4 linked regions of the Homo sapiens genome follow. The main gene of each other region encodes a partner of the protein of the gene in region 4 in a complex. Each region holds a gene or a part of one and is shown on either strand. Other genes may lie near its edges.

The links.
Region 1: SMARCA4 (region 4) and SMARCE1 share a complex: the UniProt entries of both Homo sapiens proteins name them as parts of the BAF complex.
Region 2: SMARCA4 (region 4) and SMARCB1 share a complex: the UniProt entries of both Homo sapiens proteins name them as parts of the BAF complex.
Region 3: SMARCA4 (region 4) and PBRM1 share a complex: the UniProt entries of both Homo sapiens proteins name them as parts of the SWI/SNF-B (PBAF) chromatin remodeling complex.

The regions. Positions count from the first base shown.
Region 1 is NC_000017.11:40,637,203-40,644,986, forward strand, and holds part of SMARCE1 (SWI/SNF-related matrix-associated actin-dependent regulator of chromatin subfamily E member 1), read right to left. Parts: intron 5,358-7,784; coding exon 5,253-5,357; intron 371-5,252; coding exon 290-370; intron 1-289. UniProt on the Homo sapiens protein: Involved in transcriptional activation and repression of select genes by chromatin remodeling (alteration of DNA-nucleosome topology).
Region 2 is NC_000022.11:23,824,966-23,832,749, forward strand, and holds part of SMARCB1 (SWI/SNF-related matrix-associated actin-dependent regulator of chromatin subfamily B member 1), read left to right. Parts: intron 1-259; coding exon 260-450; intron 451-7,784.
Region 3 is NC_000003.12:52,584,553-52,592,336, forward strand, and holds part of PBRM1 (protein polybromo-1), read right to left. Parts: intron 4,704-7,784; coding exon 4,518-4,703; intron 2,959-4,517; coding exon 2,801-2,958; intron 2,137-2,800; coding exon 1,873-2,136; coding exon of another isoform or gene 1,861-1,872; exon of another isoform or gene 629-1,860; intron 1-628. UniProt on the Homo sapiens protein: Involved in transcriptional activation and repression of select genes by chromatin remodeling (alteration of DNA-nucleosome topology). Required for the stability of the SWI/SNF chromatin remodeling complex SWI/SNF-B (PBAF).
Region 4 is NC_000019.10:10,956,325-10,964,029, forward strand, and holds the start of SMARCA4 (SWI/SNF-related matrix-associated actin-dependent regulator of chromatin subfamily A member 4), read left to right. Parts: upstream 1-4,705; 5' UTR 4,706-4,850; intron 4,851-4,985; exon of another isoform or gene 4,986-5,405; intron 5,406-7,705. UniProt on the Homo sapiens protein: ATPase involved in transcriptional activation and repression of select genes by chromatin remodeling (alteration of DNA-nucleosome topology).

The sequences.
Region 1 (7,784 bases), on a different chromosome or scaffold from region 4:
CACTTAACATTTTCCTCACGTCATTAAATATTCTCCAAAAGAAATGACTTTAATGGCTATAGAACATTCTATCTTAAGGATTTTAACAGTTTATTTAATCACGCTCCTCTTGTTGGATTTTAGTTCTGGAATTTTGAAATCAGAACTAATTGCTTTAAAAACCGTATTTTTTTGGACCTTTCCTCTGAATATGCACAGAAAAGCTGGCTAAGCCGATCTAAAGTTGGATGTTAAGCAAAGAAGCAGCAAAGACAGTGTCCTCACTCCTTACCAGGTCCTAAGCACCTACCTTTCTGCTGTACCTCATGTAGGGCATCAGCGGCTTATCTGGTGGCTTTGGGGGTTTTGGAATCGTGATACCAGAGGATGCCTACGAAAGAGTTAAATACATTCATTATTCAACTGTAAGGAGTTCACTGGCAAACTGAAAAGAGAGTCCCTTAAAAAATTCTAATGCGCCTTTCTTCTATTCGTCCAAATATTTTCTTCACTGAAAATAGCTATCACTGCAAATTCAGAAATGTTCAAAAGAAAATGACTTTAAGCACATAATTTTTAAATGTTTTACTTAGCAGTTTATTGCCAATGCTTTGACAACCTGGCTGCAAGAACAAATAAAATATTACACAGTAACCCATACATTGAAAATATATGGTTATATATCAACCGTCTCAAGTTCAGGACATTACCTGGTACCCTCTTATTCTGCTCAATTACCATTACACATACAGTCAACACTTGATTATCTGCAGCAGGATCTGAACCCTTAACACTTACCATTCTCACACTGTCTACAGGGGCCTTAACCTATTAGCACTAGGAATGTACTCCCAACACCACCACAAAAACAACTTCCCAGGTTCAAAAACAAAAACAATTAGTGAAATAACAAACCACCTTACCTCCTTTGCCAGGCTAGAGATTTTATTTCTCTTAAGGTTCTGTCTGTTACCTAGTGGTTTTCTTGTAAAGGGGAATGAGAAGTGTGAATTAAAAGTCACACATTGTTTTGTCCTGAGTCCTAATCACAGTGTAAAAGCAAACAAGTTTATCAGGAACAGAGAAGTGGCAGATATCGGGCCTGATTACGTTATTTTTGAGGTCTTATATCAAGAAGCTCCATTCCATTAAAAATGTTCAGTTTTATGGGAAAGACAGAGGAAAAGGAAAGATGTGATGTACAGGAAAAGAGAGACAGAAGAAAAGGAGGCGGAGGGAAGACTGAAAAATATTTTTTAAAAAGGTAAAGCAAAAATAGGTGAAAGAAAAAATAAAAAAAGAAGGAAAGAGAAAGATAAAGTGATCAGTTTTTCCTGTGGCTTAAAGTCTAGGTGAGATTCCAGACAGCCTCTGGTAGACCACCCAGATAACACCCATCTAAAAGTATCTATTTCTGAACTTTTTAGTCTCCTGTTAATATACATGACTGCATTTGATTAAAGACCCAGAATAAGAAAAATCATTGCTATTTCAGACAATTTGCAAATTTTCAGGAGATCTCTGATATTGACTCTCCCTGCTAGGCTGGAGAAATGAAGTGTTGGCTTTATTTTAATTATCGAAAGACAGGATTGGCAAATCCTTATAGGAAAACTAAAGTAACATTTTGTTCGCTTCCCCTTCTGTTGTTGCTATGATAAAACCCCAGAGATACTCCTCCACTCTGGGCTGGGACCCCAATCATAACCTTATTTTTCATTTGAGGGCTCAGGGATTAGCATGTTTGTGTCCTTTTCCACTATGATCAAGAAATGTTTCCTCTTCCTACAAGGGTCTCTCTCCATCCCTATAACTCTACTTCTTCAAAGCATTTCGCCTTGGAAGCAGTATTTCCTCTCTTTCCATTCCTCCCATGCATTCTTGTCACACCTCATGCTAGTGCCCAGGTAGACAGACACTGTTTTTGGCCAGCAGTGGGTAAGAGAGTGAGATGGCCAGGGGCATGGAAACTGTCAAAAGTGGTAGGATGGGCAGCCAATACAGGGAAACCTGTATCAGGGTCTATAGTTCTTTCAAGGGGAAAGAGAATTCCTATAAGACTAACCTTATGGATTCAGAGGAACAGACACACACAAGTCTGCTTCTTCACACATAAAGTTACTAGAAAGTATTTCCAACTCATATCCAACACAAACCTTCAGAATTCCATGAAATGGATTACAAATAAAGTTGGAATTGTGCCCATAACTGAGGTGGTAAGACCACTGTCAAAATTTTTTGAAATTAAAGAGGTAAAGAATTCTAAAATGCCTATGCTTCCGAGCTTTAATATGAATTAAAACACTTTAAAAACACAGTAGTATTTGCTCTTTGATATTTTTCAAAGAATCACATTTTATATTAATGGAATTGCTATTTCCCCTCCTTTCTCCCAAAGAAAGGTACACAAATCATCTGTATATTGAGACCAGTCAACTTACAACAACAACAACAAAAACCCAAACTAAAAAAACACCCCAAAACAATAATAAAGTTAAATTCCAGATGGTTTTCAGGATAGTAAAGATTTATATCATTACACACCTCCAATTTATTTAACGTCTCAGACAGACATCTTTCTACAATGTCTTAAACATTTCTTTAAAAAAAGCTGAACATACTTTAGACCCTTTCTGGATAAGATTCAATTAGAAACAACCACTGTTTTGCTGTGCTGTAACCCTCTGTCAGATGTCAAAATCTGTTGTTGACTCTTTCAACGGCCTAGGGGCTATGCTTTTGGAGAATGTGTTTCCATTTTTGAACTGTTTCTTTCCTTGCTACTATCAGGAAACCCACCTCTAGCAGCAACTCTCTTTCCAATTTTCTGCTTTCAATTTCCAATGGGGAGGCGGGTAGAACTGTGCTTACAGAAGAGCAAGGTCCTAGGAAATCTCCTATGAATAAAGTTCATGGTTTTGTGAAATTTATCTTGGTTACTCAGTTTTTTGTTGTTGTTTCTTTTGCAATTCTCAGCTGTTTCTCTAGCAAGAACTTATTTAAGAGCTTTCTTCTGGGGCAGAATTTCTATTAATGTACAGAAATAGGCTGTTTTTAAAGACATTTTTGTCTCAATGTGTTTTCACACCTGTACTTAAGAGAATGTTAATCATCATCTGAATGAAGAACTGACTAGGAGTGAATTCCATCTTGTAGCTATCATAAGCACTCCAAAAGGTCTCGACATGCTATACAAAGTATTTACTGTCTGAGAACTACCCAAGTATACTGGAGTCATCAGGGAAACCCAATGTTCTCTACAGCCTACCACAAGCTACTGGACAGGGCTTCACAGATTCGTTCCTTGAAAACCACTAATGCAATCTGCGCACAACAATACCATACAGGAGCTTCCCCTCACCCCCAAAAGTAATGCATAACTAGGGTCATAGTAAAATCAAAATGCTTTTATTATGGTCAAAATCAGAGCCATTGAGTCCTAACAGCTTAAACTAGATATAGAAAGCAGGGCAAGTAGTGTAAAACCTCCACATTTTCTAGGCCCTTCTTCATATAGCAGTTTGATTATACTTCAATTTGGTGTTAAGAGGACAATAATACAAAGTAAATGTCCACAAAGGACCAAAACACCAAATTTTCCATGTCCAACAACTCTCTATAATTAATCTACTATGTAGCTAGTGTCCACGCCAAATGTTCAGTTCTTAACATTCGCCAAGAAGGAATGGGAAGAAACAGATGAGTGACTTCAGATAGGGAGTACACTTTCTCTTCCTAGTCTCCATCGAACAATCTCACTTTTTTAACTGAGAATCCCCCACAGCTACATCCAAGTTAAGAGCAAAATACTTACACAAAACCAAAAGACAAATTACTGTAATATTATAGTTATCATTTCTATTCCATTAACATAGATAATCAAGAGGTGACTGTATAGAGCTATTAAATGCAATCATTCTTGTTTACTGCCCGTGAAAAAATTGCTGCATTAACATTAAGATCCATGATTGATTCCGTTCATTGTTTAAACTGAAATGTTCTTTATCATTTGAAAACCTTGCCATCCATTACACTTGTGAAACAACATGTTTAGGCCAGGGAAAAACATGTATTGATGCACATAAAAATTGTATGCATTGTGAAATGCATACATACACACACTTTGTCAGAATTCTTTTTCAGATACCATGAAATATGCATGGCACATAAAACTTGATATGCTTATGAAGTACATATTATGCAGAAACAATGAAAAATTTAGACAAACAAAACCTATCAAGCTAAGCAATATGCTTATCAAGATAGACATTCATTTGATAGCTACAAGCTTTCAGTTCCAGCTTGACTACAGGGTGAGAGGGCTTTTTTGAAGTTACATTAATAGAAGGCACTTGTTATTTATGAATACAGCAAACAAAAACCAGGTATTAAAAACTTTACAGCCATTCTGGGTTGTATAAATTCTCACCAACACTACATTCCAATGTAGTATTTGACTTTTGGATTTTTTATCTTTAGTAAGTCATTTTTATAATTATTGGCATTTTTTGGTGCTTAAACTTTTTTGAATGAAATTTAAGATGATTCTAAACTAAAAGATTTGAAGTGTATCATCCAATTTTGATATCTTAGGCTGATCACTTAAATGAAACATGCTAAGTTTCAGAAATCCTATCTCTTATACTAAGGATTAGAAATGCACTTCTCGTTGTACATATCTAGTCTGATACTTCAAATTAATTTCATTCAACCTTCACTCTGCATTTCTTTGAGGTGACATTAAAACGTTTTTCTCTTTTTCACTGTAGAGAAATGAGTCTTAGTTAGAAGGTCAACTACTAAATCCAAAAGACAAATAACTATGGGTAGCGATTCAAACTGGTGTACCAGCCAAAAGCTTTCCAGCCCTGAAAAAGCCAGGTCTGAAAGACCAGCCTCTACTAGAAACTCAATCCTTGAGACTAATGCCAATCACCTTATAAAAATGAAAAATACTCTTTATGTCAAAAAGGATATTTTTACCTTAAGAAATTCTGTTTGTTTACATACAGTATAAGCATCAAGTGCTCAAGGCTTTAACCCTACCAACCACCAAACAGAATGGATTTTTCTTTTCTTCTATATACATTCCAGATCTCACTATTTATTTTTTCAGTGTGAGATGCTACAACGAATGTTGAAAATACTCAAAAAGCTAGGTTAAAAAATTTTTTTTAAATGGCTGTGCTTATGATTCAAAAAGACCTAATTCTGAAGGCATTTCTGGTCAATTCCAGTTGTTTGCCGGATGCTGTAATAGTTGATTCTCCTACCGTGACCCGGCTGTTGGTGCCCGGGTTCCCTCCCAGCCTGTAGTTGTTGTAGGCGAGATGACTGTATGGATTGTATCCCACAAACCCTGGTGTGCTGGGCATTTGCTGATGGAAACAAATGAGACAAAAACACGAATGAGAAATGAGCTCAAACGAGGAAAACACAGAAATGAAAAATGATCTGCATATGGCATGCAAAAGCAACCTGAATTTAAACAAGCAATGATGTGTTGTAATTGTTCTTTTTTTCCACTGAGGAAATTAAATATTTTTCTTTCATTGAGAAACCTGTCTGCAGTGTCTTTTGGTTGTTTTTCTCTTTCTTTTTTGCAGGGGCTGGGGGTGTTTGTGTGACTGTGAATGTGTGTTTTGTTTTTTGAGGTAAGCAACACACTGAAGTGTTTAAAACATTCAGGATTACTTTATGGTCAACAATAGGATAAAACAACTTAGCAATATATGAAGACTGAAATAGGAAGGCTTGAAGTGTGATCAACTAGAACTCTGAAAACACTACATGCAAAACAAAATACAATTTATTTGACATGTGGATGCCACCAATGTATTTATCTACTAAAAACAAAAAAAAGAAATGGATCTGATTTCAACGACAGTTTTAAATCATTTTATATAATGTGAGAAATGAGTAGAGACTCAAATCGGGAAGCCAGGATTTGTCAATTGAAAAGAACATATGTTGGATTTGATGGATGTCACATACATGATTTAAAACAAAGACTTGTAAGAAATGCATGGATTTCATTCTGGGGTACTATCTGATCTTTTTAACCCAGTCATTCTTTTATAGGATTTCTCTTCCATTTCTTCTTTGATCCATCTTCCACTGGTCAATCATGAAAACATTTCTGCATTTTGTCTCAATGTGAACTACTTTTCTAGTTTATAGACTTCTTTTTTCATCTAGTTTCCTGATAGCTCTCACCCTTTCAAAATACAACTGCTCATTTCAGCAACAGAACCCTTGGTTTTTGTGAATTATGTGTTGATGTAATCACAAATGGGCTCTTATATAGCAGTAGCCTTGGGGCTAATACAATGACACTCAATGTTCATGAGAACCAAGGCATAATGCATAGAAAGAATATAGTAGAGAGAGACCAAAATTAGGGTATTTTACCTTGTAAAATTCAATCAAAATATGTGACAATTTCATTTTTACATGCAATTAACAATATCGGTCCTTAATTGTATAATGTAAAATACACTTAACACATTCCAACTAAGCTGTAGCTGTTACAAAATAAACACAATTTCCTAAAACATGCCGCTGCACATATCCTTAGTACCCAAAAGAAAGACATTTAAGCAGATATTACATTTGATACTCTTTAGGAGAAAAGAGAACGGCTGATCAATTTCTAGTCTATACAGTTAGAAAAGACGCAAATAAAGCATATTTAAGTAGGCAAAACACAGTTGAAGTATCAAAGGCATGAAAGAAGTGTATATTACTTGCAGCGGTACATTTGGGTGGCAGAGGTGATAGTGGTGATAGTGTTGGTAGTGGTGGTGATGGTGGTGGTGGTGGTAGAAGTAATGGAAAGAAAAAAGGAAGAAGAATAATTCATTTAGTATCCATTCTGTTGGATGTTTTAATCCCTAGTCTTCTATATTTTGTGTGTTAATGTGAAACTATAATGACACAAAAATATAACTAAAGAAAGGCAAAAAAAATTCCTTTTTATGCATAATAAATTATAAGGGGACACTTGGTTTTTGAAATATTTTAATCTCAAAAAATCAAGTTTGTCAAGATGATGCATTGTCAGAGGCAGTATTTTTGTCAAAATGACACCTTCAAAGGTAGCATAAATAATAAGAATCACTGTTCAACATTATGAGGCAATAATGTTATAAAAATAAGGGAACTAAAAAAAAAAAAATGGAAAGCAAAACATTATAATTATACCATTTCCAAAGCTGAAGTACATGGTTAGCTCTTTGAGGTCAGAATCTCAATTGTTCAGCTCCACCTGTATAGCCACTAGCAGAATGCCATGGAGATGGTCATAACAAATGTTCTTCGATTTAAGAAAGAAAACAAAGCAAGCATAGGACTTTATAGTCTACTGGAATTAACTTTAGAGCCTGTATATGACATAAATTGAAATGAGAACATATGGTACGGTATCTCTTTTCTAAAGTATCTCACTAAAGAAAAACAAATTGTTGATAAATGTAACTAAAATATGTATCTGAGGGTTAGTAAATATGAGTAGTTTTTTAGCGGAGAAAACTAAGTTACACAAGGACCTAATTAGTAGTGAAAAGTAGACTAGCCTGAAATTTAGGTGGTGGGGGTATGGAAGGAAGGATTAATATTAAAGAACTAATTTTGTAGAATTTGGTCATGCTAACAGTGTTTTTTTAAAAACAAACAAAACCCCCCCTCCCAAAAAACCAACAAGGAAGCCATTTCAGCAAGACCTGAACAGTTACTGCTAAATCTGTTTTGTGGGTTGGAAAATTATTTTACATGCTGACCAAGCTGGGCCAGAGCTTCCTGGGTGA
Region 2 (7,784 bases), on a different chromosome or scaffold from region 4:
CTCAGGTGCCCCCGGGGTCACTTCAGGGCCTCCCGAGGGTGACTGTGCTGGGCCCTGAGCCAGAGCCCCTCATGGCAGACAGGGTTGTGGGGTCAGCCTTGTTTTGGGGATGGGGAACTGGAAGGACAAGGACCACCTGCAGTTCTCAGCTGGTGGACCCTGGTGGGCAGGGCCCACCCCAGGCCTGGCAGGGCCCCGCTCCTCGCGGCCTCCCTGGGCTGCAAAAGCTCTAACTTGTGTCCTTTGGTTGTTGCCTCAGCTGAACATCCATGTGGGAAACATTTCCCTGGTGGACCAGTTTGAGTGGGACATGTCAGAGAAGGAGAACTCACCAGAGAAGTTTGCCCTGAAGCTGTGCTCGGAGCTGGGGTTGGGCGGGGAGTTTGTCACCACCATCGCATACAGCATCCGGGGACAGCTGAGCTGGCATCAGAAGACCTACGCCTTCAGGTAGGATCATGCATGAGTCTCTCCCTCCCTCATCTCCCTGCAAAACTGTTTTGAGAAAGACTTCTCTGTGTGAGCGGTGATACCTTTGAGGCTTTCTCACGCTTCGCAGCACAATCTGGCTGGGGTCTGTGTGTTTGCTCCGTCCTCCTCCTGCCCTATGTATCTCTCCAGGGCTCCGCTGTGCCAGGTAGGGTTAGAAGCACCTAACACAATAGCTGGCAAAGACTTGGAGTTCTGTCAGGGTGAACCTCAAGTCCTTGCCTCCACGGAGCCCTGGCCTGCCCCCACCATCCACCATTCAGTTGTCCTGCCCCACACCCTCTCTCTCTGCTCTTGCCCAGACTGTTATTTTGGTCAGGGTGACCCCTGCCCAGGGTTCTTCATCTGTTGAACTTGAATTATGTCTTAAACACAAAGGCCCGCCCAGCTTTTGAGAGTCAGGGGTCCCTAGCAGCTCCTTCTTACTCTAGTATCTCTGCCTTTGGTCAGTCAGAGAGCATTTGATGAGTACCATGCTGGGCTGGACCCCATCCTGGCTGCCCTGGAAGATAGAGACAGGTCACCTTGATCCCTGCCTGTAGCATTTGGGCTGGCTGAGATGGTGGAAGTGTGAACAGAATATTCCAGTCCAGTGTCCTCTGTGGTAGGGATGGGGATGGACCCGGGAGAGGCCCTCCTGTTCCTGGCAGGAGGTGGGACTCAGAGTTAAAAGTGAGGTCAAGGCCCAGTGCGATGGCTCACACCTGCAGTCCTAGCACTTCGCGGAGCTGAGGTGGATCACCAGAACCCAGTAGTTCAAGACCAGCCTGGGAAAAACATGGTGAGACCCCACCTCTACAAAAAAAAAAAAATAGAAAAAATGAGCCGGGCATGTTGGTACATGCCTGTAGTTTCAGCTACTCAGGAAGCTGAGGTGGGAGGATCGCCTGAGCTCAAGAGGTGGAGGCTGCAGTGAGCCAAGATCACACCACTGCACTCCAGCCTGGGTGACAGAGCGAGACCCTGTCTCCAAAAAAAAAAAAAAAAATAGCGAGGTTGAACTCTCCCGGCTCAGCAGGACTCTAGGACTGGGAAGCCCCGTGGTTCCTCACCCTGTCCTCTGTGTTGGGATGGGGTGGGGGTGCAGCAAGCATCCCTACATCAAAACAGGATGTTCAGATTTAGTCTGCTCATCAGACTATCATCATCCACATCTGCAGTCATCACTCAGGGATGACAGCTTAAAATGCTACATGAGGAGCAAATAGGAAGGTCTGTTTTGCAAAGCCATGACAATTAATGGAGCTCGTTAGGTTTGTGTCTAACTTGTTTTCCCAGACATCCCAAGAGACAGCTTTCTATGACTTCCCATAAATCTGAGCAAGGAAGAAGGAATGAGAGCCACCCACGGGGCTCAAGGGCCCGGGCCTGGGAAACAGCTGAGTCCCTGCCTGAGCGCCATGGTGCTGAGATCCTGTGACCTGCCCCCCAGCAGCCCTGCCAGTCACATGGTTCTGCTTCACAGACAGGGCAGCCCAGAGAGGAGGCTGGGGGGCTGGTGTCTGATGCCTCCCTGTTCCCTCGGGGTGTTGCCTGGGAGTGCAGCTGTAGCGTGCATTCACCCTGCACAGAGCCAAGCCCTATGGCCGGAGAGCCAGTCAAGGGTGGCCTCCCTCCACCAGAGTTGACTCTGAGGCCCCGGGAGGCAGTCATGTTGCGCGCATCAACACTGAGCACCTCCTCCCGCAGAGGCTGATCCAGTCAGAACCCTCGTCTTGGGCTCACAGGTGCAGGTGGTAGGCTGGCTGCCCCCAGCATCCAGCCCCTACGGTGTTGACCTTCACCTAGTCCTGCAGCCGCTGCCAGTGCCCACAGTCCAGGGTCAGGAACTGAAGTCCCCGGGGCCTCTTGACAGGTCCTTGCAACATCCCTTCTTTCAGCCACCATGGCACCATCCCTCCTGCTCTGACCCGAAGGTGACCTGAGCCTAAATTCCTTTCCAAGTTCCGGGCCCTCTGCAGTTTGCAGAGTGGCTCCAGAGCAGACCCCCTGGGGAGTCCCTGGTGGTGGCAGGTCAGGATTTAGAGGCAGAGGCGGGCCCCTTCTTTATCTCATCGACCACTTAGTGCATTCCAGTTGCAGGGCCTGGGGGCATCACAGACCCCCTGCCCCCTGCTCTCTCTTATGCTGAGAATGCAGGTTTCAAATCTTTGGGGTTAAAGGCAAAGGCCATCCCGCTGGGACCAAGGTGAGCACACGTCCCTATCACAGCAGCCAGATGGAGAGGCGGCCTGCCTGGGGAACTGGGAAGTGTCCTGAGTGGGCTTTTAGCATCAGGAGGGCTGCGTGTGTCTTCCCAGTCCCCACACTGGAAGACAGCTGCAAGGATAGGACAGGGCCTTAGGGTTGGGCTGTCATCCCTGACTCCAACTCGCGTTCCCCCCACTGTACCACCCCACCCCATGGGATCTTAGGAGGGACTTCGTTTAACTCTGTCCCCAGGGAGACCAGTGTCAGTCCTGCCTGGCCCTGCCTGGGGAAAGGAGGCTGGGCCACTGAGTCCCCAGGTCCAGGGGCCAGTCAGCCCACAGAGAGCTAGACCAGGAGTCCTGGCCTGGTCTCTGCCACACAGAAAGCTTGGCAACTGCTGTGTCACATGACTTTTTGTTTTGTTTTGAGATGGGGTCTCGCTCTGTCGCCCAGGCTGGAGTGCAGTGGCGTGATCTCGGCTCACTGCAAGCTCTGCCTCCTGGGTTCACGCCATTCTCCTGCCTCAGGCTCCTGAGTAGATGGGACTACAGGTGCCCGCCACCACGCCCAGCTAATTTTTGTGTTTTTAGTAGAGACGGGGTTTCACCGTATTAGCTAGGATGGTCTGGATCTCCTGACCTTGTGATCCACCCATCTCGGCCTCCCAAAGTGCTGGGATTACAGGCGTGAGCCACCGCGCTCGGCCACATGACTTCTTAAGAAGGGTTTTCAGGCTAGGCATGGTGGCTCACGCCTGTAATCCCAGCACTTTGGGAGGCCGAGGTGGGCGGATCACCTGAGGTCAGGAGTTAGAGACAGGCCAACATGGCAAAACCCCGTCTCTACTAGAAGTAGAAAAATTAGCCAGGTGTGGTGGTGGGCACCCGTAATCCCAGCTACTCGGGAGGCTGAGGCAGGAGAATTGCTTGAACCCGTGAGGCGGAGATTGCAGTGAGCTGAGATTGCACCATTGTGCTCCAGCCCGACAGAGCTAGACTCCATCTCAAAAAAAAGGGTTTTCAGCTCTGGACCTAGGTCACTCCATAATGGAAGCACTCGCTGATTCCCCAAGAGCCAGTCCCTCCATCTCTCCCAGCCAGAGCTCAGTGCCTGACTTCCATACCCTCCTCGGCAGTGGGGACATTGATTGGATCCATGGTACAGTGGGGCAAGCTGCTGGCCACAGGACATGTGTGTGCAAGGCCACTATGCCCACACCTCAGGGGAACCAGGGCAGAGAACAGCCTGTTCCCTTTGGCAGTGGGACAGACAGGAGACAAGCATGAAGGGGAAACAGGGGCATGTGACAAACTGGTCAGAAGCCCTAGGCTCCTAGAGGACAGACTGGGACCAGAGTGACACAGGCGTCCCAGAGCCAGTGGAGTGGGATGAAGGGCCAGCGAAAGGAGGGAGACAGGGCTCAAGGGGAAGGAGGCTGGGCTAGGCAGAGCCTCTGAGGAGAGCTGATCCTGCAAAGTTACTGGCACCTCCCCTGGGCCAGCCCTGTGTTCCTGGCCAGGGACGGGAGGAGACAGTGCCCTGTCTGGCAGAGGAAACAGATTCATGTGCATGACTATCAGTGTGCCATGGCCACAGAAAGCACCGGAGGCTGTGGGCATGAGGAAGGGCAGTTGGGGGCATAGAACCTGGGGTGAGGATGGCCAGGGCAGGTGCTGATGGGGGACTGCAGCAGGAAGGACCGAGAGGAGACCAGGGACAGGCAGGTGCTTGAGAAGGAAGGTGGGCCCTGTGGATCAGGCAGGGTATCTGCCCCAGGGGGCTCTGCACACCAGCAGTCCTACACGTACAGGGTGGGGATGAAAAGAGACTAAGGGTCAGGGAGCTTGGTAGCTGGGCCTGCATGAGGGACAGAGAGGCAGTGTCCCTCTGATGGCACAGCATCAGGAATTAGGCTGGGGTATGTCAGGTACACGTTGGGCTGGTTGAGCGTAAGCCTCAGGTTCCTTCCGAAGCTCTGCCCGCCAGCCCTGGCCTGATGTCAGGTTTTGTTTGTTTTTTTAACAGCTTTATTGTGATATAATTCATAAACCATACAATTCACACATTTAGAGTATATAGTGCAGCGGTTTTTGATATATGCAGAGAGCTGTGTAACTATCACCACTGTCAATTTTAGGACTTTTTCATCACCCCACTGCAGGCAGTCCCGTTCCTCCCCGCTGTCTCTCAGCCCTAGGTGTCCACTCATCCACTTTCTATCTGTAGATTTGCCTATTCCGGGTACTTCATAGAAATGGAACCATCTAATATGTGGTCTTTTATGACTGGCTTGTTAGCATAATGTTTTCAAGGATTATCCATGTTGTAGCATCTTTTATCAGGACTTCATTCTTTTTTATGATTGAATATTATCTCATTGCATGGATATACCACATTTTATTCATTCATCAGCAGATTGACTTTTGGGTTGTTTCCATTTTTCAGCTATTGTGAGTACTGCTGCTGAGAACATTTGTGTATGAGTTTTTGTGTGAACATCTGTTTTCAATTTTCTTGGATATATACCCAGGAGTAGAATTGCTGGGTCACGTGACAACTCAGTGGTTAGCATTTTGAAGAATTTCTAGACTGTTTTCCAAAGTGGCTGCACCATTTTGCATTCCCACCAGAAGCGTGCGATTCCCGTTTCTCTGGATCCTGCTGGCATTTGCTGTTCTCTTTTTGATCGTAGCCGTCTGAGGAGGTGTGAAGTAATTGTGGTTTTGATTTGCATTTTTCTAATGACTGATGATATTGAGCATCTTTGCATGTATTTCTGGCTGTTTGTGTATCTTCTTTGGAGAAAGTGCTTTGCTAGTTTCTTAATTGGGTTTTATTTTATTGTTGAGTTGTAATTGTTCTTTATATATTCTACATAGAAGTCCCTCATCAGATAGATACATGATTTGAAGATATTTTCTCTCATTTGGAGGATTGCCTTTTCACTTTCTTGATAGTGTTCTTTGAAGCACAAAAGTTTTCATTTTGATGTAGTCCAATTTATCTTTTTTTTTTTTTTTTTTTTTTTTTTTTTTTTTGAGACAGTCTCGCTGTGTCACCAGGCTGGAGTGTAGTGCTGTGATCTTGGCTCACTGCATCCTCCGCCTCCTGAGTTCAAGTGATTCTCCTACCTCAGCCTCCCAAGTAGCTGGGACTACAGGCACCTGCCACCACACCCAGCTAATTTTTTGTTTTTAGTAGAGACGGGGTTTCACCATGTTGGCCAGGATGGTCTCCATCTCTTGACCTCATAATCCGCCCGCCTCGGCCTCCCAAAGTGCTGGGATTACAGGTGTGAGCCACTGCACCAGGCCTGTAATTTATATATTGTTTTAGTTTGTTGCTAGTGCTTTTGGTTTCATATCTAAGAATCCATTGTCAATCCAGAGTCATGTTGCCCCAGCACCATGTTGAAAACTGCTCTTCCTCCATTGAGTGGACTTGGCACCCTTCTAAAAATCATTTGAGGCTCCTGGCGGCCTCGGAGGTGTGAATTGCAAACATAAGGGTGACACCAAGTTTTGGCATCTCCCCTTCCTGGTCGAGTGGCTGTGGACAGGTCATTTTCCCTTGAAGTCTGTATTTTGTCATTTGTAACTTGGGGATAATACTTGTGTGTTGCATCACATGAGGTCATGAAAGTGAGATCACATTGAAAGTAAACCTCAAGATACTCGACCGGCATCAGTCCTGGCTCCCTCTGTCCCTCAGACGTGAGCATCCCCTGCCTGGGTATCTTTGTCCCCACCTGGACACTTTGGGTGGTAGGAAGGTCTGGGGTCCCTGGCGGCTTCGAAGCCCGTGAACCAGAATTCCCTGGAAGGAATGGGGAGCAGGGTGGCTCCCAGGGTCCCCAGCACTCTTTGGAACTCAGGACAGCATCTCCATGCCCACATGCCCCCAAAACCCAAGGCAGGCTAGTGCTGGCTCTAGGCCCGTTCTTACATGGTTGGTGCGAGCATTTCTTACTTTAGAACAAACCCACTGGAGTGGAATATTCCCAGCATCAAGGGGAGGTAAACAAAGGACCCTCTGGGACCCACTCGCCAGCTCTTGTTTAAGAGGAAAACATGTTTTGCTCCCCTCGTTGTGGGCTTGGTACCTTTCACGTCTGCCCTCCAAGGAAGGCTGCTGGGAGCCCTCACGGTGAGGAATGATGTTTGGGGTCTGAGGCTAGGGTGGTCCCTAGACTGCTAAACCACCCGGTGCTGGCCAGGGACCAGCTGTCAGGAGCTGCTGAGGATGGGTCAGCCCCAGAGGGTGGGGGTGCCGACATTGCCTCTGGCCCTGCCTCTGCGTCACCAGTACGAGCTTGAGCTTCTGCGACTCATGAGCATGGACCTGGTGGGCTGAGCTTCAGCTGTGAGGGGTCAGGCCTGCTGCAGGGAGAGCCAGCTGCAGCCAGTGCCCTGCGCTGTGCCCACAGTCCCTGAGACCCCAGGCTGAGGAGAGCAGCACTGAGCCCAACCTGGAACGGGCTCACGGCTACTGGAGCTGGGTGTGTGCTCACTGGTGTGGATGTGCAGAGCCGGGACTCGCTCTGCAAGCAGGCTGGTCCCACAACCTTGAGCCACCCACTACAGGGAGGCTGTGAGAAGGTCCCTGGCCCCTAGGAAGCTCCCTCAGTGGAGATGTTTTGGCTGCTTTAATAACAGTCATCCTTCCAAAGCCCTTCACAGCAATAAATGTTTCCATATTCCAGATGAGGTTTGCAGGGACCTGTCCTCTCTATCAGTGTCCACCTGGCGCCTCCCCCGAGTCCGGCCTGCCCTTGCTTCTCCCAGAGCTCATGGTGTTTTTCAGGGCCGCAGGCTGGCAGGGTGTCCTTCTCCCAGGGGACTGAGCCTAGGGAGAGCCAAGTGGAGGTGCCCAAGTGGAGGAGAAAGGAAAGGACCACAGAGAGGGGAGGGGAAGTGGGAGAGTCATGGTTAGGACCTCAGGCTGAGGCCTTCTGCCAAGCCAGGGGTCTGGTGTCACTCAACTGGGAAACACTGTCAGCACCCAAAGCTGCTCTCAGAGGTGGGGGTGACGGGACCACTGCATGTGGGAGGCACACGGGCCCTGTGGCATCCACAGCTGTGGTCTCCTTAGTGTCCTGTCACAGA
Region 3 (7,784 bases), on a different chromosome or scaffold from region 4:
TCATGGGATACCCCCATCTCAGCCATCCAAGTGGTTGGGTCTACAGGCATGTGCTACCATGCCTGGCTAATTTTTGTACTTTTTGTAGAGATGGGGTTTCACCATGATTCCCAGGCTAGTCTCAAAATCCTGGACTCAAGCGATCCACCTGCCCTGGCCTCCCAAAGTTCTAGGATTACAGGTATGAGCCAACACGCCTGCCATCTTGCTTCTTTATTGTCAATATTTTTACTGCTTTTGTTTATCTAACTACATTGGCTAATTTCAAAAAATATTAAGTAACACTAGAACAGTAAGCCCCTTTGTCCAGTGTGTAAATTTAAAAAGGAATTTGTTTTATAGGCTTCAGGCTTGAGACACAAATATGAATTTAAAAAAAAATTACACTAGAAGAAATACCTATTGAAAGTCTTAAAAAAAATCAAGATGGGTTCTCTACCAAATAATCTTTCCTTTGATCTAATGGAATAATGAATGAAATTTAAAGATCTCCCTAACTTTGAACAATTCTTGCTTTCTTAGAATGAATTCCCACTTCTTGGTCATGTTGTTCTCAAAGAAGTAATTTGATTTCACTTACTTTTTCCCCCAAGTAATTTTTGCATCAATATACATGAATAAGACTGAGTTGCAGTTTTTTGTTTTTATTTTTCAGGTTGTGAAATCAAGATTATCTTGGCTTTGCAAAACAAACTGGAAATTTCTTGTTCTCCCTGCTCTGAAACAGCTTCAACAGTATAATAATCATAGGTCCCTTAAAGAAAAAGTCACCTATGGAACTGTCTGACCTCAGTACTCTTTGGGGTCAGTTCTATGATACTTTAAAAAATTTCTTCATGTTGTTGTACATTCTGTATTATATCTCTTCTTGATTCCATTTTGGTAATTTGTAATATCCTAGACAATTAGCCATTTTATTTAGGTTTTCAAATTTATTAGCAGAAATATACAGTCTTTACATTTCTTCCACATTTATTTATTTATTTATTTTTTGAGACAGAGTTTCGCTCTTGTTGCCCAGGCTGGACTGCAATAGCACGATCTCGGCTCACTGCAACCTCTGCCTCCTGGGTTCAAGCGATTCTCCTGCCTCAGCCTCCCGTTGGGATTACAGGCACCCACCACCTCACCCAGCTAATTTTTTGTATTTTTAGTAGAGACAGGGTTTCACCACGTTGGCCAGGCTGGTCTCGAACTCCTGACCTCAGGTAATCCACCCATCTTGGCCTCCCAAAGTGCTGGGATTACAGGTGTGAGCCACCGCGCCTGGCCTTCTTCCACATTTTGTGTCGAAGTTTAACCCCTTTCTTTTCCCATTATTAGATAGTTGGCAGTTTATCTAATTGGACTTGTCAAATAATTAGCTCTTAGATTTACTTTAAAAAAATTTTTTGTTTTTTTGAGACAGAGACTCACTCTGTTGCCCAGGCTGGAGTAGAGTGGCGTGGTCTCAGCTCACTGCAGCCTCCGCCTCCCAGGTTCACGCCATTCTCCTGCCTCAGCCTCCTGGGTAGCTGGAATTACAGGCACGCGCCACCACACCCAGCTAATTTTTGTATTTTTAGTAGAGATGAGGTTTCACCATGTTGGTCAGGCTGGTCTCGAACTCCTGATCTCGTGATCTGCCCGCCTTGGCCTCCCAAAATGCTGGGATTACAGGCGTGAACCAATGCACTTGGCCTGATTTACTTTTAAATTATAATGTACAGTTTTGAAAGTGTAAATTTCTTTCTGTTATAGTTTCCTTCTTCCTGTTTGGCTAAGGTTTTGTGTTGTTGCTCTTTTTCTAAGTTTGAATACTTTATTCATTTATTTTCTGGAATAGGTGTTTTGAGATGTAAAATTTTTTCTGTGTGGCTATTATCTGCATACCTTTTCCAAGTTAAAATTGTCTTCAGCTCGACTGTCCTCTGAGTTGTCTGTATTCTTCTCATCATCACCTTTATCTGCATTTGCAAATACAGAGGCCACGCGAACCACAGGCAGAGGCACATCCCGAGGGACAAACCTGACTGAGCTGATGGGCATGGTCCACAGTTTAATTTTCTTAAAAGATTTGGTTTTGGCAGAATACCGTGATTCACAGACAAAAACATCCTCATCTCGGAAGTTTTCTGGGCATAACTTAAAGTATTCCTGGGGGGTGGGGAGGGCATAAGAATAAAACTAGTTAGGTGAATTTTCTGAAAATCAATCAAAAAAAAAAAAAAAAAAAGCAAATAACCAACCAACCAAACAAAAGCTGAACTGATTACAGACTTTCTGGCAGTTAACAAAAAATAATAAATGACCAGAGATTTAGAAGTATTTCTTTGGCTACGGAATGGACTTATTATATACACACCCTTTAAATTATAAAAACAAATAATTCCATTTAGCTTACAATTGCTCTTTGAAAACATATGAACATTTCATATAGCTATAATGTTCCTTAAAGCTTTGAAGAGGGCTTGTGTGTGTGTATCAGACAGACACACAAAAGCACACATTATTACCTAAAAAACAAACTGAAAATTTGTAATGATTATCCTTAAAAAAACATCATACTTAAAAATTAGCCTGGCAATATTAAAAACTTAACCTAACTGCATTATAGCCAAATAGTGTAAGCAGCAAGTGGTCTTTCACAACGAAGTTCAGGTTAATTTCTTCCCAAATCTTTTCATATAGCTATATAGACACGGCTTAAAAAATAGCTTAAAACAGAGTTCCTAATTTTGTAAACATCGATTATTTTCTGTGTTTTAAAATTTTATTCCTAGGGAATGAGTGAGACTTTGGGATTTAATGAGTTTCTTACCTTGACAAACATGACCACACACTTGCCTAGAATTTTACTAACTGGAACTTTGTTGTAATAGTCACTCTTAAAAACTTCTTTTTCTAGAAATTTTCGTGTAGCCAGGTGGAATGTTTCATTTGGTCGGTAAAACCAACAGCCATACAACCATTTTTCACCTCAAAAATGGGGGGTGGGGGAAGGGGAAGAGAAAGAGAATCATTGTTAACAGAAATCACTTTTTTTTTTTTTTTTTTTTAAAGAGACTGGGTCTCACTACGTTGCCCAGGCTGGACTTGAATTCCTGGGCCAAAGTGGTCCTCCAACCTCAGCCTCCTGAGTAGCTGGGACTACAAGTATAAGTCACTGTGTCCAGCTCAGAAATCACACATTCTTTGCAAAATTAGGAAATACACCATCAATCCACTCTGCCATGACATGAACCTAGCACTGTGCTTATTTTTACAGCTACAGTTTAATATAATTATCCACAGGAGAAATAATACTCAAAAATAATAAAGTGTAATGAGGCCTAAAAAATGCATGCTACTTTTCCCCCCTCATATATATATATATACACCCTCAACCTCTTGGGCTCAAGTGATCCTCCTGCCTCAGCCTCTCAAGTTGCTGGGACCACAGCAAGTGCAATCACACCCTGCTGATTTTCTTATTTTTTCTAGAGAAGGGGTCTTGCCATGTTGCCCAGGCTCTTCTTCATATTAAAAGCCATATAAAGTACATAATGAGGAGGACAGGTGATGAGACCTGCTCCACTCTGCTCTGGTTAGTACATACCTAGAGTTGTGCACTTTAGTAAGGGGACAGATATGCTACTGAAGGACATATTTAGCTCTCTGGTGAAGGAATACAAAAGTATTTCATGTGATAGGCAGCTCAAAGAACTGGATTGCCTGGATCACATTTCCACCAACTTCTGGCTTCATTAATTTCTATGCATACTCCATGTCTCAATTTAAAGGCAACTGTTCTAGAAAGCCTTTTTGAAAACAAATGCTAAGCCAAGGCATGTCATTCTATAATAATTTCTTTTTTGATCATAATCTTCCTTACTGGAGTAGTTTTGCAAGGGAAAATATGAGCTTTTTGTTCTTCTGAATCTATGTCACTCTACATAAAGTTTGGCTCAAAGTATGTTTTTAATAAGTATCAAATGAATGAATGAATCTCAACCAGACTTTAAGAAGCTGTATTTCTTTCTTTTTTTTTTTTTTTTTTTTTGAGACAGTCTCACTCTGTCACCCAGGCTGGAGTGCAGTGGCGTGATCTCGGCTCCCTTGCAAGCTCCGCCTCCTGGGTTCACGCCATTCTCCTGCCTCAGCCTCCCGAGTAGCTGGGACTACAGGCGCCCGCCACCAGGCCCAGCTCATTTTTTGTATCTTTTTAGTAGAGACAGGGTTTCACTGTGTTAGCCAGGATGGTCTCGATTTCCTGACCTTGTGATCTGCCCGCCTCAGCCTCCCAAAGTGCTGGGATTACAGGCGTGAGCCACCGCGCCCGACCTAGAAGCTGTATTTCTTTTGACTCAACTGTGACACTTGCCCAATAGGTCCTATGTTTTTCATATGATGGGTGCTTACTTACATTTATTGACATATTGAACAATTATTATGGAAAGGCTTAAGATGTCTGAGTTAAAATTTTCTTCCCTGAGGAGCAAGGAGAAGTCAAACAGTCATATCTCACTAAACTGTCCTTTGATTTAAAACAAACTTACCAGCTGAATCCTCCCACAGTCTTTCAATACAGACGATATGTGGTTGTAGGTTGGCCTCTGCAGGTTCCACATAGACGTAATCTCCAACATGGTACATGCTGTTTTTAAAGCTACAGTCCTGGCTGTATGTGCGATGTAAGCCTGAGAGGCCTGCAGCACCAGAGGAATCTTCACTCTTTTCAGCTTCTTAGGTAAAAAAATAAATAAATAAAGGAAAAAGGTACTCACCAAAGGGATGCTGAAGTCAGATGTAGGGTTCAAACAACACATACTAATAATACATTTAATACATTTAATTCCATTTGCAACATGCGAAGGCAGGAATCAGCAATAGTATGATCTTCACATTCCTAATAGCCTCTACTCAAAACTATCTTTGAATTACAACCATCATTAATTTAAATGAATATATAACTACACAAAGGATGTAGAGAATAAAAACATCACCTTACTAATATATGATCATATGGACATTTTGGATAATATCGAAAGGCACAAAGAAGTACGTATGTCGTTTCGAATCAAGTAATTCTAGAGATAATCTCTGATATACTTCATCCCCACCTTAATGCTTCTTAATGTGTTTCATTTCACTAAGTTATTACACGAATATGACACATTTAATGGAGTCTTAGAATTGAAGAAATATAGAATACATATATTCTACAATATACTATAAACTATATCTAGTATATATACTTAATATATCAAGAACACTAGCCCTGAGAGGAAATGCTTTTCAAAATGACTTTTATTTTTATTTATTTATTTTTTTCGAGACGGAGTTTCGCTCTTGTTGCCCAGGCTGGAGTGCAATGGCACAATCTCAGCTCACCACAACCTCTGCCTCCCAGGTTCAAGCAATTCTCCTGCCTCAGCCTCCCGAGTAGCTGGGATTACAGGCATGCACCACCACGCCTGGCTAATTTTGTATTTTTAGTAGAGATGGGGTTTCTCCATCTTGGTCAGGCTGGTCTCGATCTCTCGACCTGAGATCCGCCTGCCTCAGCCTCCCAAAATGCTGGGATTATAGGCGTGAGCCACCGCGCCCAGATGACTTTTATTTTTGTTAAGTAAAACTTATTAATAGTTCCAGTACAGGCCGGTAGCGGCAGCTCACGCCTGTAATCCCAGCACTTTGGGAGGCCGAGGCGGGCGGATCACTTGAGGTCAAGAAGAGTTCAAGGCCAGCCTGGCCAACATGGTGAAACCCCATCTCTACTAAAAATATTAAAAAATTAGCCAGCATGATGGCAGGTGCCTGTAGTCCCAGCTACTTGGGAGGTTGAGACAGAAGAATCGCTTAAACCTGGGAGGTGAATGTTGTAGTGAGCCAAGATCAGGCCACTGCACTCCAGCCTGGGTGACAGAGCAATACTCCATTTCAAAAGAAAAAAAAAAAAGTTCCAGTACAAGCTATCGTTTGCAAATATCACAGGGTTTTTATTGAGGATAAAGCTTTGCCCAAATCTTTGATTACTTCCTTAGGTTAATTTCCCATAAATGGAAGAGCTAATAATAAGCATTTTAAATGTTATTTATTTTATTCCTCCTGAAACATTAAATTTTCTTTTTCTTTTTTTAGACAGTCTCACTCTGTCACCCAGAGTCTTGAACTCCTGACCTCAAGTGATCTGCCCGCCTTAGCCTCCTAAAGTGCTGGGATTACAAGCGTGAGCCACCGTGCCTGGCTATCTAAATTTTAAAATAGTTTTTCTAGTTCTGTGAAGAATGTCATTGGTAATTTCATACGATTAGGACTGAATCTGTAAATTGCTTTGGGCAGTATGGCCATTTTAATAACATTGATTCTTCCTATCCATGAGCATGGAATGTTTTCCCATTTGCATCTGTCATCTCTGATTTCTTTGGGCAGTGAGTAATTCTCATTGTAGGGATCTTTCACCTCCCTGGTTAGCTGTATTTCCAGGTATTTTATTCTTTTTGTGGCAATTGTGAATGACAATGCGTTCCTGATCTAGCTCTTGGCTTGGCTGCTATTGGTGTATAAGAATGATAGTGATTTTTGTATACTGATTGTGTATCCTGACACTTTGCTGAAGTTTATCAGCTGAAGGAGCTTTTGGGCTGAGACTATGGGTTTATTAGATATAGAATTAAGTCATCTGCAAAGAGACGTAGTTTGACTTCCCTCTTCCTATTTGAATACCCTTTATTTCTCTCTCTTACCTGACTGCCCTGGCCAGGACTTCCAGTACTATGTTGAATAGGAGTGGTGGGAGACAGCATTCTTGTCTTGTGTCAGTTTTCAAAGGGAATGTTTCCAGCTTTTGGTTATTTCAGCATGACGTTGGGTGGCTTTGTAATAGATGGCTCTTATTATTTAGAAGTATGTTTCTTTAATACCTAGTTTATCTAGAGTTTTTAATATGTCAAAAAGCCTTTTCTACATCTATTGAGATAATGTAGTTTTTGTCTTTGTTTTTTTTTTTTTTTTTTTTTTTTTGAGACGGAGTCTTGCTCTTGTCTCCCAGGCTGGAGTGCAGTGGCATGATCTCGGCTCACTGCAACCCCCGCCTCCCAAGTTCAAGCAATTCTCCAGCTTCAGCCTCCTGAGTAGCTGAGATTACAGATGCCCACCACCATGCCCGGCTAATTTTTGTATTTTCAGTAGAGATGGGGTTTCACCATCTTGGCCAGGCTGGTCTTGAACTTCTCACCTCGTGATCCACCCGCCCCGGCCTCCCAAGCTGTTGGGATTACAGGCGTCAGCCACTGCGCCCGGCCTTTTTTTTTTTTTTTTTTTTTGACATAGTCTTGCTCTGATGCTCTGATGCCCAGGCTGGAATGCAGTGGCGCCATCTCGGCTCACTGCAACCTCTGCCTCCCAGGTTCAAGCAATTCTCCTGCCTCAGCCTCCCAAGTAGCTGGGATTACAGGTGCCCACGACCATGCCCGGCTAATTTTTGTATTTTTAGTAGAGATGGGGTTTCACCATCTTGGCCAGGCTGGTCTTGAACTCCTGACCTTGTGATCCACCCGCCTCAGCCTCCCAAGGTACTGGGATTACAGGTGTGAGCCACTGCACCAGGTTTTTTTTTTTTTTTTTTTTTTAAGACTTGAGATGGATTCTCGCTCTGTCGCCCAGGCTGGAGTGCAGTGGTGCGATCTTGGCTCACTGCAGTCTGCCTCCTGGGTTCAAGTGATTCTCCTGCCTCGGCCTCTCGAATAGCTAGGACTACAGGTGCGTGCCACCACACCTGGCTAATTTTTGTATTGTTTCTAGAGACAGGGTTTCACCATGTT
Region 4 (7,705 bases):
CCCTCCCCCACTTCCCGTTCCCTCCTCTCCCCTCCCCTCCCCTGCCCTGCCCTCTCCTCCCCTTCTTTTTTTTTTTTTTTTGAGATGGAGTCTCTGTCGCCCAGGCTAGAGTGCAGTGGTGTGATCTTGGCTCACTGCAACCTTCGCCTCCTGGGTTCAAGCGATTCTCCTACCTCAGCCTCCCGAGTAGCTGGGACTACAGGTGCTTGACACCACACCTGGCTAATTTTTGTATTTTAATAGAGACGGGGTCTCTCTTTTTTTTTTTTTTTTAGAGACAGACTCTCGCTCTGTCGCCCAGGCTGGAGTGCAGTGGCGGGATCTCAGCTCACTGCAAGCTGTGCCTCCCGGGTTCACGCCATTCTCCTGCCTCAGCCTCCTGAGTAGCTGGGACTACAGGCGCCTGCCACTACGCCTGGCTAATTTTTTTGTATTTTTAGTAGAGACGGGGTTTCACTGTGTTAGCCAGGATGGTCTCGATCTCCTGACCTCGTGATCTGCCCGCCTCGGCCTCCCAAAGTGCTGGGATTACAGGTGTGAGCCACTGCGCCCAGCTGAGACGGGGTTTCACCATATTGACCAGGTCTCGAACTCCATATTGACCTTGCGATCCCAGAGAAAGTGCTGGGATTACAGGCGTGAGCCACCGTGCCTGGTTGAGACAGGGTTTCACCATATTGACCTGGTCTCGAGCTCCTGACCTTGTGATTTGCCTGCCTCGGCCTCCTAAAGTGCTGGAATTACAGGCGTGAGCCACTGCGCCCAGCCTGTAGATGTTTTTTTTTTAAAGTCTGGAAGCCAAGGGTGTCAATGCAGACATGGGGCCAAGGTCCCAGGGGCAGTTCATTATTAAGAACTGTGCTCTTAATTGAGACACCTGGCAAATTTTGTATTGCTTTGTAGAGATGGGGTTTCACAATGTTACCCAAGCTGGTCTTGAACGCCTGTCCTCAAGTGATCTGCCAGCCTGGGCCTCCCAAAGTACTGCCATTATAGGCATGCATGAGCTACCACAACCGGCCTGTTTTTCTTTTTTGAGACGGAGTTTCGCTCTTGTTGCCCAGGCTGGAGTGCAACGGCATGATCTCAGCTCACCGCAACCTCTGCCCGCTGGGTTCAAGCGATTCTCTTGCCTCAGCCTCCCAAGTAGCTGGGATTACAGGCATGCACCACCACACCCGGCTAATTTTGTATTTTTTTAGTAGAGACAGGGTTTCTCCACGTCGGTCAGGCTAGTCCTGAACTCCTGACCTCAGGTGATCCGCCTGCCTCGGCCTCCCAAGTGCTGGGATTACAGGCGTGAGGCACCGCGCCTGGCCCGGCCTGTTTTTCTTTACACTATTGCATATTAGTGTGATTAGCATAAAAGACAATTAGAGAACAGTCATACCATCCACTCCATGGGCAGCAACCCTGCCTCCTCCATGCATTGCTGCAGGGTATTCCTAGCTCAATGCTTAGCATTTGGAGAGAGCATAAGAAATACTATTTGGCCGGGCGCCTTGGCTCACGCCTGTAATCCCAGCACTTTGGGAGGCTGAGGTGGGAGGATCACCTGAGCCCAGGAGTTTGAAACCAGCCTGGACGACATAGTGTGACTGTCTCTACAAAAAATTTTAAGAAAATTAGCTGAGTGTGGTGTCCCACCCTTGTAGTCCAAGCTACTCGGGAGGCTGAGGCAGGAGGATCGCTTGAGCCCAGGAGGTCGAGGCTACAGTGAGTACTGATCGTGCCACCGCAGTCCAGGCTGGATGACCCAGCAAGCCTGTGTCTCAAAAACAAAAACAAAAAAACAAAAAAATAACTACTTGAATGAATGAGGAATCGAGTTCAGATCCCACTTCTACTTGCTCACTTACTGTGCACTATTCAATAACACTAGCTGAGGATCAGAGAGCTAGCAGGTGGGCTACCTGCTGTCATGATTCCTCATAACCAAACAGTGGAAGTGGGAGCCATTATTGTTTCTGGTGGGTTTTTTTTGTTTTGTCTTGTTTTGTTTTTGAGACGGAATCTCCCTCTGTCACCAGGCTGGAGTATAGTGGCACGCTCGACTCACTGCAACCTCCGCCTCCTGGGTTCATGCAATTCTGCCTCAGCCTCCTGAGTAGCTGGCACTACAGGCACGCGCCACCACAGCCAGCTAATTTTTGTATTTTTAGTAGAGATGGTGTTTCACCACATTGGCCAGGATGGTCTCAATCTCTTGACCTCATGATCCACCTGCCTTGGCCTCCCAAAGTGTTGGGATTACAGACGTGAGCCACTGGGCCCAGCATTTTTTTTTTTTTTTTTTTTTTTTGAGATGGAGTTTTACTCTCGTCACCCAGGCTGGAGCGCAATGACATGATCTTGGCTCACTGTAACCTCCACCTCCTGGGTTCAAGAAATTCTCCTGCCTCAGCCTGCCGAGTAGCTGTGATTACAGGCACCTGCCACTATGCCTGGCTAATTAATTTTTTTGTATTTTTAGTAGAAACGGGGTTTCACCATGTTGGCCAGGCTGGTCTCGAACTCCTTACCTCAGGTCATCTGCCCACCTTGGCTTCCGAAAGTGCTGGGATTACAGATGTCAGCCACCGCACCCAGCCTTATTGTTTGTTTCACAGGTGAAGAAAGTGAGGTGTAGATGCTCTGGTAAACCTGCCTGGTATTACCCATGCATCACCCAGGTAGTAGAAATGGAGTCGTGTTTTAAACCCAGGTCCTTCTGGGGCCTGGCTTGGTGGCTCATGCCTGTAATCCCAGTGCACTGGGAGGCTGAGCCAGGAGGACTGCTTGAGCCCAGTAGTTTGAGACCAGCTTGGGTAACACAGCAGACCTCAGCTCTACAGAACATAACAGACAAAAAAAAAAAAAAAAAAAAAAAGCTGGTGGTGGTGGCATGTACCTGTAGTCACAGCTATTTGGGAGGCTGAGGTGGATCCCTTGAGTCCAGGAGTTTGAGGCTGCACTGAGCTGTGGTTACACCATTGCACTCCAGCCTGGGTTACAGAGCAAGACCCTGTCTCTAATAAAACAAACAATTAAACAAAAACCCACCCAGGTGAGGTGGCTCACGCCTGTAATCCCAACACTTTGGGAGGCTGAGGTGGGCGGATCACTTGAGGTCAGGAGTTAAAAACCAGCCTGGCCAACATGGTGAAACTCTGTCTCAACTAAAAATACAAAAATTAGCCGGGCGTGGTGGCGGACGCCTGTAGTCCCAGTTACTCGGGAGGCTGAGGCAGGAGAATCGCTTGAATCTGGGAGGCAGAAGTTGCAGTGAGCTGAGATCGTGCCACCTCACTCCAGCCTGGGCAATGGAGTAAGACTCCGTCTCAAAACAAACAAACAAACAAACAAACAAACAAACAAACACACAAAAAAGAAAACACACAGAAGAGGCCAAGAGGCTCAGGGCCTTCACTCTCGGAGGAAGGTTTCTCTCTTTCACCACCAGCCTGTATGCATTCAAACGTGTTCTTTGCAACGACGACTTCCGTGGCTGCCCTATTTAAAATGTCCATGATCCTCCCAGTGTTCACCTCACACTGTACTATTTATTTTTTTTGAGACGGAATTTCACTCTTGTTGCCCAGGCTGGAGTGCAATAGTACGATCTCGGCTCACTACAATCTCCACCTCCTGGGCTCAAGCGATTCTCCTGCCTCAGCCTCCCGAGTAGCTGTGACTACAGGCGTGTGCCACCACGCCCGGCTAATTTTTTGTATTTTTAGTAAAGACGGGGTTTCACCGTGTTAGCCAGGATAGTCTCATCTCCTGACCTCATGATCCACCAGCCTAGGCCTCCCTAAGTGCTGGGATTACAGGCATGAGCTACCGCGCCCGGCTAATTTTTGTATTTTTAATAGAGACGGGTTTCACCATGGTGGTCAGGCTCGTTTCTAACTCCCGACCTCAGGTGATCCGGCCGCCTCGGCCTCCCAAAGTGCTGGATTACAGGCGTGAGCCACCAAGTCCGGCCTCTCATACTGCACTATTTTGCTTATTAATCTTGCTTCTTGTCCTCCTTCCCCACTAGACCGAGGGCTCCACGGCGGCTGGGACACAGTAGCAGATCAATAAATATTTGCTAAGCTAATTAATGGCACTTGGGAAGTTTTGCAGAGAAGGCGGCCACGGTCGGGCCCCGCCTTGCCTCCCCAAATAGGCCTCGCCGCCCCAGGTCAGGGATCAAAGCGGTTCCCAGGCGCGCCCTTGGCCCGCGGGAAACCACTGCCCGGTCTTGGTCCAGGCGGCCCGTCCTACGGTCCAGGGTTCCTATTTCCGAGCCTCAGGGACCTCCTTTCCCCACGGACCCCACGGCCACCGGGATCCCATTCTCCAGTTGCCCCATCGTCACCGCGGCCGCCGCCACCGCCGCCGCAGTGGCGTCCGCTCTGCGCATGCTCCGGGGCGTCAAGACGCGAGGCGTGCAGAAGGCGAAGCGTGCGCAGGCGCGGGGCCATCGCGGCCCGAGTGGGGCGGTGCATCGGACGCGCGTGCTTCCTCCGGGCCACGCCCACCCCCGTCCGCCCAGGGACGGGCGCGCACGCGCGCCGGGAGCGGAAGGGCGGGCTGGCGCGCGCACGAGGCCGGGCAGGCGGCGGAAGCTGGAGAGGCCGCCGCGGTGCTGAGGGGGAGGGGAGCCGGCGAGCGCGCGCGCAGCGGGGGCGCGGGTGGCGCGCGTGTGTGTGAAGGGGGGGCGGTGGCCGAGGCGGGCGGGCGCGCGCGCGAGGCTTCCCCTCGTTTGGCGGCGGCGGCGGCTTCTTTGTTTCGTGAAGAGAAGCGAGACGCCCATTCTGCCCCCGGCCCCGCGCGGAGGGGCGGGGGAGGCGCCGGGAAGTCGACGGCGCCGGCGGCTCCTGGTAAGGAACGCGGGCCGCGGGGGCAGCGCGGCGCGGGGCCGGGGAGGGCGGTTTGAATGGAGCCGGGGCGCCGAGGGGGGAGGGGGCTGCCGGCGCGCCCTGTGCGGGGCCGGGGTACGGCGGCGCCCGAGGGTCAAGAAGCCCAGCCGGCAGCCGCGCGCGTGGGGAAGGCCACAGTGTCGCGAGGCCGTGGCAGCGGCGGCCCCCGCGGAGCGGCGGGGTGGGTGGGGGGCCCGGGCCGCGTGGAGGCCGCGCGATCCTCTCCGCGCGCGCTCTCGCCGGGGTCGCCGGACAAAGCTCGCCCCCCTCGCCCGGCACCCCTACAGTCGCCCTCCCAATTACAGCGGCTGCAACAATAGGCAGGCGTTGGGGCTTTTCTGGCTGCGTGGTAACGGGTCCGACCCGAATGTTGCGTTTTTGGCGAAGCTGCGATCGGGGCTCAGCCAAACCTCCAGATATGTCCGGCGTCGGCCGGACACGGGCATTAGCGGTCCCCTTGGGCTAGCCGACCTCAAATTGTCTTAAAAACGTGTCATTCCAGATTTTCAAGGAAAGGTAAAGGACTCCCCCGATGCCTTGCAGTTAGTGACTTCAAAATGTTTGCCCGAATTGGGGTTGGGGATGGGGTCGGCGGCAAGTAGGGGAGCACGGAGGAAATCCTTTGCTGTGTAAAAGCATTGCTTTTCTTTTGCATCCTTTTTTCTCCTTCCCAATTGGTTTTTCAGATTAAGGCTTTTATTTTCAACGTGGACCTTTTGGGCGAGTGTTTTGTCCCGATCTTGAAGATACCAGTCTTGATTTTTTTTTTTTTTTTTTTTGGTCAGTGACTCCTTGGGGAAAGTAGCAAGGGAATAAGCGGAAAAGCCGCTTCGCAGGAATTTGAAGCAAGTTTTCAGTTTGGATTGATAGGCTGCATTCAAGCTTGATTCCTGGTGCTGTCAGTCACTTAGCACACTGTCACTTTAGGGAAGTGGCTTAACCTCTCTGAACCTCTTAGTTTTCCTCCTTTGTGAAAGCTCCTTTGTGAAAGGGGGTAATCTCCCAAATGGAATTGGTGAAAGCCTGTAAAATGGTTCCTCGCAAGCGGGAAGCACTATTGTAATTGTCTGGTCCAATCTCCCTCATTGTTCAGCAGATAACTTCTTGAGGCCCTACTAAGTGTTGGATGGTCGGGGGTTGGATCCTGGAGCCTCTGCAGTCTTGGAGGGGAGCGGGTGGTAAATGTGGGAACAAACTCTCTTGGCCTATCGTTTATTGCTCTGAACCTGCACTGTGAGAGGGACACAGCGGACAGGCAGGGGATCGGTGGTAGCCAGAGATCACGGGGGCTGCTTGGAAGAGGGGGCCTCAAAATCAGGGAGGGTGTGTAGGATTGTATTTTGTTTTTGAGGCAGAGTCTTGCCTGTCGCCCAGGCTGGAGTTCAGAGTCCCAATCTCCGCTCACTGTAACCTCCGCCTCCTGGGTTCAAGCGATTCTCCTGCCTCAGCCTCCTGAGTAGCTGGGACTACAGGCGCCCGCCACCACGCCTGGCTAATTTTTGTATTTTTAGTAGATATGGGGTTTTACCATGTTGGCCAGGCTGGTCTCAAACTCCTGACTTAAGGTGATCCACCCACCTCGGCCTCCCAAAGTGCTAGGACTACATGTGTGAGCCACTGCGCCAGGATTGTATTTTGACTTTCCCTGGCCACCTCGGACTAGCCATTGTTCCCCTCAGCTACATTCATACATCAACTTGGTCCTTTCCGGTGTAGCTGTCACCCCCAGCACCGTGAGAGCTGGGGTTGTGTCTGCCTGGCTGGCCCCACAGTACCCTGGGCCTGACACATAGTAGGTCTTTAGCGAACTTATGTGGATTGAATGAGGGGGTCCTGTGGAAGATCGCGTGACCATCTGTGTAAAAGGCTTGGTGCAGGGCCAGGTGCAGTGGCTCATACCTGAAATCCCAGCACTTGGGGAGGCTGAGGCGGGAAAATTGCTTGAACCCGGGAGTTTGAGACTAACCTGGGCAACATAGTGAGACCTCATCTCTACAAAAAATACAAAAATTAGCCGAGTGTGGTGGCATGCACCGGTGGTCCCAACTACTCAGGAGGCTGAGGTAGGAGGACTGCTTGAGCCAGAGAGGTGGAGGCTGCAGTGAGCCATTCTTGTGCCCCTGCATTCCAGCCTGTGCACCAGAGTAAGACTGTCTCAAAAAAAAAAAAAAAAAAAAAGAAAAAGAAAGCTTGGTGCAGGACTGGGGGTGGATTGTAAGGGATACAGGTTAGTTGTTTGAACAGTTTTTGCACTTTCCAAGCCATTGTTTCCTGAACCTCAGTTGTCCTCATCTCCCCTACAAAGTGTGGGGTGGTGGTTAGCGTGGGGTGGTGGTAAGGAGTACTCATTCTGGAATCAGACCTCCTGAATTCACACCCAGCTCTCTAAATCGTAGCTTAACCTCAAGCGAGGCGCTTAGCAGTAGGGCCCCCCACTTGTGAAACAGGTAGGACGAGGATGCCCGAAACTTCACAGGCTTCTTGTGAGGGTTGAATGAGGTCACATGGGAAGCCGCTAACACACTGCTGCACCTGATGCGTAGTGAACACTTGATTTTTTTTTTTTTTTTGAGACGGAGTCTCGCTCTGTCATCCGGGCTGGAGTGCAATGCCCCTGTAGTCCCAAGCTCCTTGAGAGGCTGGGGCAGGAGGTACAGGCTGCAGTGGACCATGATTGAGCCACTGCACTCCAGCCTGGGTGACGAAGCGAGACCCTGTCTAAAAAAAGGAATAAAAATTAATTCATGCATAGTTAGGAAAGTAATAAATGGTTTTGCATGGGCCACCTAAAATCATTTTGTGTCCAGCCCTTTAGG